2 linked regions of the Homo sapiens genome follow. The protein of the gene in region 2 purifies or fractionates together with the protein of the main gene of each other region. This does not show direct contact. Each region holds a gene or a part of one and is shown on either strand. Other genes may lie near its edges. The genes, in order: GALNT12 and CD8B.

Region 1 (2,779 bases), on a different chromosome or scaffold from region 2:
TTTATCTTTTCCCTCTGCCTCTCTGTTATAAGCTGTATGCAACGAACTTAATCATGGCTGAGCAGCAAACAGGCAGAGTGAATAACAACATCAGTGAAAAACCTTTGTGATGTGCTGTTCACTAAATGGAACTTTTTTCATTCAAAAAAATCCAAACTCATGTTTTGTAGAATCCAAGAAATGACATTTCAGAGGTTTTTAGGCCTACATAAGAAAATACAAGGCTGGGCACAGTAGCTCACGCCTGTAATCGCAGCACTTTGAGAGGCTGAGGCAGGTGGATCACTTGAGGCCAAAGAGCTCAAGACCAGCCTGGCCAACATGGCAAAACTCCATCTCTACTAAAAATACAAAAAATTAGCTGGGCGTGGTGGCGGGCGCCTGTAGTCCCAGCTACTCAGGAGACTGAGACAGGAGAATCGCTTGAACCCAGGAGGCAGAGGTTGCAGTGAGCTGAGATTGCACCCCTGCACTCCAGCCTTGGTGGAGCAAGGCTCCGTCTCAAAAAAAAAAAAAAAAAAAAAAGATCCAGCCCTAAGAACTAAGCTTTCTATTATGGTCTAGTGAATATAAGTGGGGACATTTCCTTCAGAATTCACATATGTTTCTGTTCAATATATATTTGTTTTATATATATATATTTAGGGCATGACTGATGAAATATAATAAATCAAGCTGTATCCTTTTCACATATGAATCAAAGTATTAAGCGTCCTGAAGAAAGGTAAAAAATCCAATTCAGTATCCTTCTTCCCAGCCTCCTGAACAAACTTCCTTTTCCTTAAATGGTCACTGAAATTTAAGATAAAATTTTTGATATGTCAAACTGATTTTATTGTTTCTAGTGTCCACTACCATTCCTTGAGGGCTTACAATGGCTTCTGGTTGGGAGAAAGATGGGAAGAGGAGGACATTCAAGAAGATCAGAGACGTCTGGGGTGTGCAGAAGTATTTTTCCTTCTTATTTTCCTGTATTCAATAGGTAACACCATGGTGTGTGGCTTTTCTGGGCAGCCTGCAAATGTCATTGCTAGTGACAACATTTTTCTGCAGGAAAACATATTCCAGCTTTTAATCATCTTTAGAATAAACCCATTTATAAGCAGTATATTGGGAGTGAAAGCTGCCCAGGGAGATAAAAAACAATGAATTTTTTTCTTTCAAATGATTTTCTTTGGATTTATTCCCTCACATGCTTTTTAGTGAGTCAAAGGATATGATCGATTTACAAGTCCTGATGCAAGCTGACTGCAAGTGTGGTGGGGCCAGCACCCTCAGGTCTGAGGTAACCCTCAGTTTCAAATCAACTGTGACTATCCAGGGAGACTACTCTATCAGAGGTGTTTTCTTGGTTATAATACCACAAGCAACAACTAATCTCTATCGAGCTTTATAGTTTCCAAAGAATATTTCTGGCTATGCATCTAATCCTCAGTAAAGTAAGTCTGCTATTATTGCACCTTTTTTTTTTTTTTTTTTTGAGACGGAGTCTCGCTCTGTCTCCCAGGCTACAGTGCAGTGGCATGATTTCGGCTGACTGCAACCTCCGCCTTCCGGTTCAAGTGATTCTCCTGCTTCAGCCTCCCAAGTAGATGGGACTACAGGGGCATGCCACCACACCTGGCTATTTTTTTTTTTAAGTAGAGATGGGGTTTTGCCATATTGGCCAGGCTGGTCTCGAACTCCTGGCTTCGGATGATCCACCTGCCTTGGCCTCCCAAAGTGCTGGGATTACAGGCGTCAGCCACTGTGCCTGGCCTATTGTACCTATTTTAAAGCTGGGAAAAACAAGGCTTAGAGAGGTGGGGTGGCTTATATCTGGATCTAACACTTTGGCTAACATCCTTACACTTGGGCTATTTGGCTTACTCATTTAAAGCCCTTTCATCTCTGAATGCATTTGTAAGAGCTGTTTCCATGTCGGTGCCTGCAGCTCATGGGGGTGCAAGGGAAATGGAAAAGACTAAAAGGGACTGGACAATGAGGAAGGAAGGCAGTGCTAATGACACCGTGTGCCAGGGGACTCCAATCTCCTGCCATCACCGCCCCCCAGGCTCACTGGGACTGAGGTTCCAGGTCTTCCAGAGCTCCTGTCCATGCATGGCCACATCCCTGATCCTCACCAGGACTATGCCAGAGAGAACGTCTGACTCTCACACTCTCCCTTATAGCCCAGGGACTGTCAGCAGGAAGGAAGGAGAGAGTTCACCTACCTCCTGCAAGATGAACTTCTGATTCTCTGGGGCAGTTTCTTCGCAGAGATGCATGATAAGGGTATCCATTCCTGCTTCCACAGCAATGCAGCCCTCAGGCTGGTGGGTGTTATAGCGTATTTCTTTCTGGGACGTGTACTCGAAAAACTAAAAATGGGGCAGCCAACATGTAACACAACATTTTCCACTGATGTGGGAAGAGGAAAGATCGCTGGACAAGAACCTGGGATCACGAGAGCATGGGTGGGGTCATGCACCTGCGTCACCACCAACACGAGCCTGTGTGATGGGTTCCTCCGCATCCCACAGCCCTCAGTGAACCGCTACTGCAGTGCTTCATGAGCGTGGAGGAAATGGCCCTTCCCATGCCTGCCCAGCTTGCTAGACAGGGAGACAGGGCTGGTGCATGTCACCTCCTGCCTGCAGTGCTGAATGCTGTGTTGGTGTGGGATGGGAGGAAGGGAAATGGACCCATCGCAGCACTAGCTCTTGGGGGCTCTCTGTGACCTTGACTAGCTACTTCCTCTCCTTTTCCTCAGTCTCTCCTCCCAAACCCCCAATATGAC
Region 2 (3,823 bases):
TCAGCTTGGGAGTGGGCTGGGAGAGGGGCCTGAGGCACCTGCAGCCTGGCTCTGGGTGCCCTGGGCGCTTCCTAGCCTCTCTAGGACTCTCCACACCTACAACGTCGGGCAAATGAGGATCTCAGGTGCAAAAGGAGGATGTACAAATTTTCTCCTTCTGGTTTCTGTTCCACGGAGCACTGATGTCTTTGCTGTAGATGGGCTTTCGCACGTTTATGTCACAGGAGCCGTTTGTTATCTTTAACCTGGGACTTTATTTGTACAACTAAGACATTTGTATAAAACAAACAGAAAATGAAAGAAGCATTAAGCCATGGGAGAGTAGAAATGGGAGCTGAGAAACTTAAGAGTAGAAATGGGAGCTGAGAAGATGAAGTGAACTCCTATCCTCAAACCCGCAAGTTCCCGGCCCCAAAGGAAGCCCTCAGAGACTGATATGCCTTCTGGGAACTGGACAGCCCCTCTCAGCAAGCCTCATTCCCAACCTGCACCTGGCCTCTCTGCGAGGAAGGTCAGCCCCAGCCTGGGAAGACCAAGAGGGAGCCAGCCCAGCATCACCCCATGAAAGACCCAGGACCCAATGTTACTGCCCTACCAGGGCAAAGCAACCTGCAAAGATGGTGGCTAAATGGCCACCACTAAAGGTCCCAGTTCAGGGAAAGCACAGGAGCCGGAAGCGGTGGCATGGGCAGCATTTCTTACTCAGTCCTCCAGCACACTCTGTGAAGTGCCCTGGGGGCAATGAAACCTTCTCCCTAGTATTCCCGATGACCCACGAACAAGTTGCTCCCATGCACATCACACACAGAAAGGCCTTGCAGCAGTGAAAAGCAGGCAGCTTCAGCAGCCATTGAACTCTCCAGGGTTGAATGTGTCCCTTCTCTCATTTTTCCACATCGTGCTCGTTACTGACCGATGTCTTTTTGTAGCAGGACACCAAAACCGTATTCTCTGCTCATTTGTAAAATCTGAAAACAACAGCAAGTTGTGAAACCACTTATTTTCAGGCAAACGATATTGAATTTCCTGTAACAGAGACAAATGGCAAATGAGAATGCAGAGTTCTACTCCAAGTAGCCTGGGGCCGAGAGTTTTTTGTTAGTATGTTTCTAGGGCCCATCTTAGTCATTAAAAAGATTGTTAAGGCTAAAAAACAAAACAAAACAAAACTGCAGCTCAAAGAACGGTAGCTTTGAATTGGGTTACTTCCTGTAGTACCTCTAAGATAATCTAAGAGAATCACAAATTTATATCAAGGGGCCAGAAGAAATTAGCCTGCAGATGGGATGATTTTCTAAGGACAGTTAGAGGCTGGGGAACAACTACCTCAAATCGCAACTCAGATCTGTGAGCACCACAGGCTATTTCCTCCATGCCTGGATCATGAGAGCAAAACCAGAGGTGGTTTTCAAGCTTTTTTGAAGCCACAAACCCTTTTGTTCAAATGACATGTTACAGGTAAGTGTAAACCCAGACAATAGAAGAGAGTACGTCTGTTCAAAATGAAGAGAGTGAGGAGGTCTCAGGGTCCCCCCACGACCACCCAGAGCCCCTTCCCTGCCTCAAGCTGATCCTGGGCTTGCAAAAGCATGAGGTCCTGCATCCAGCCTCCCCAAAACTGGCATCAGATCACTGGGGAGCAAGTTAAAATGAAGGGGTGGGGACAGACCCAGACCACAGTTAGTACCAGAGAGGGACTTACTTTCCATGAAAGGTCATCATGGGAGACATTTTGAAAGGAACTTTCTTTTTTTTTTTGAGACAGAGTTTCACTCTTGTTGCCCAGGCTGCAGCGGAATGGTGTGATCTCTGCTCATTGCAACCTCTGCCTCCGGGGTTCAAGTGATTCTCTTACCTCAGCCTCTCGAGTAGCTGGGATTACATAGGCGCCTGCCACCACGTCCAGTTAATTTTTTGTATTTTTAGTAGAGATGGGGTTTCACCATGTTGGCCAGGCTGGTCTCAAACTCCTGACCTCAGGCGATCTACCTGCCTTGGGCCTCCCAAAGTGCTGGGATTACAGGCTTGAGCCACTGCACCCGGCCTTGAATGGAACTTTCTAGAGGTCTGGCCTGAGACAGCTACACTCAAGTTATTATCTCTTGGGTAGGGGGCAGCTTCTAAATCCAACACACAAGGTGAAAATTGTACACAATTAAAATATCATTGAAAATTGCCCATAAAATCCAGCAGGCATGTTTAAGCCACTCTCGATATAAATATAATGTGTACAACAATGCAGAGCATATAGTAATATGAATTTATATGGCTATTTACAATTTTAGAGTATTCAAAAATACATTTTGTTTGTCCATTGCTGCACTTGCAGAGTGGAATTTACTGAAGTGACTTGAGCTTGTGCTCTGACTCCGGGGTCCTGGGGCCACATGCTTTAAGGATAATACCCCAGTGAGTCCTCACACTGACTGTGAGATTGGCACTGTTAGCTCATTTAACAGACGAGAAATCCGAGACTTGGAGACGTGAAGTGACTTGCTGGCTGTCACATGGTGATTGGCAGACGGGATTCAAACCCAGCCCTGTCTCCACCTAAAGCTGGAGCTTTTGAGCAGGAGAACCTGTTGCCCTCTTCAATTTAGAGTTGTGTACTTTTGCTCCCCCAAACATTTCTGTATAGAGGGGGTTGTTCTAAGGATCAAATGTAATTAACTGGATAGGCAGATGTGAAACAGTCTCTGTTGTGAGGAACAAAAATCAAATGCAGGAATGCTGCCCTGGCCCAGGATGGCTTCCAACAGCCTCATGAAAGACCCAGGACCTAATGTCACTGCCCTACCAGGGCAAAGCAACTTGCAAAGGTGGTGACTAAATGGCCACCACTAAAGGTCCCAGCCCAGCCCAGGGTAAGTACAGGCTCTTTCTCAGCTTAGTGGGCCCCAAGAGTGCTATGTGACTCTGTCAACTCCTGGGACCCAGATGGGGTCGAGGGCAGCAGGTGGGACAAAGGCAGCTCCTAGGGAAGGAAAGCAATGGCTGGTAGAAGAGGCTGGTCTTCAAATCCGATTCCAGTAGTCTCTCCACTGATCTGTCAAATGAGGGTGATAACCCCTTATCTCACACAGTACCAAGGGGATGAAATAATAGGTGGGATGAAATAACGGATGGGATGAGTTTGGGATACTCTGCGGTATTCTGTGCATGCAAAGCCTGATTGCTCTCCTCAGGAGAGCTAAGAATGTTCTTGAAATACATTTAACTTACTGGTCAGGTTTTTGTTTGTTTAGGTTATCTCTTAGGTTCCTGAACTCTATCACCCCATCTATTTATACAGTCTGTAATTTTTTTTTTTAGATGGAGTCTCACTCTGTTGCCCAGGCTGGAGTGCAGTGGTACCATCATAGCTCACTGCAGCCTTGAACTCCTGGGCTCAAGTGATCCTCCTGCTTCAGCCTCCCGAGTAGCTGTGACTACAGGTGTGCACTACTATGCCCGGCCGAGTCTATGATCTTTGGAAGATGAGGTCTGACTTTGGCTCCTCGCTGCAGTTAGAGGCTGCAAGCTGCAGCAGGGGCTGAGGAACCCAAGGCCACACCCAGGTTATACACTTACTGTTTCATGAAACGAAGCCGGGCTCTCCTCCGCCGGCCTGGAAGAGGAAAGCAAGGGCGCCAGTCAGTGTGGGCTGTGGGTCACTGCGCTGAGCCCCAGAGGCCAAGGAGGATTGTCACAGGGGCAGCTGACACCTCAGCCCACCTCCCTGGTCCCAGACCCTGGCCCAAACACTTTACACATTTTAATCCCCTTAATGCTCACTGAAAACCTGAGTTGGATACTACTTTTAAGATCTCCATTTTATATGTGG

Evidence for each region.
Region 1: the proteins of CD8B (region 2) and GALNT12 purify together in Homo sapiens (affinity purification with mass spectrometry; one large-scale study listed by BioGRID and IntAct). This does not show direct contact.

Annotation. Positions count from the first base shown.
Region 1 is NC_000009.12:98,845,558-98,848,336, reverse strand, and holds part of GALNT12 (polypeptide N-acetylgalactosaminyltransferase 12), read right to left. Parts: intron 2,361-2,779; coding exon 2,214-2,360; intron 1-2,213. UniProt on the Homo sapiens protein: Catalyzes the initial reaction in O-linked oligosaccharide biosynthesis, the transfer of an N-acetyl-D-galactosamine residue to a serine or threonine residue on the protein receptor.
Region 2 is NC_000002.12:86,841,352-86,845,174, forward strand, and holds part of CD8B (T-cell surface glycoprotein CD8 beta chain isoform 5 precursor), read right to left. Parts: intron 3,608-3,823; coding exon 3,571-3,607; intron 1,027-3,570; coding exon of another isoform or gene 969-1,026; coding exon 956-968; coding exon of another isoform or gene 906-955; 3' UTR 1-905. UniProt on the Homo sapiens protein: Integral membrane glycoprotein that plays an essential role in the immune response and serves multiple functions in responses against both external and internal offenses. In T-cells, functions primarily as a coreceptor for MHC class I molecule:peptide complex.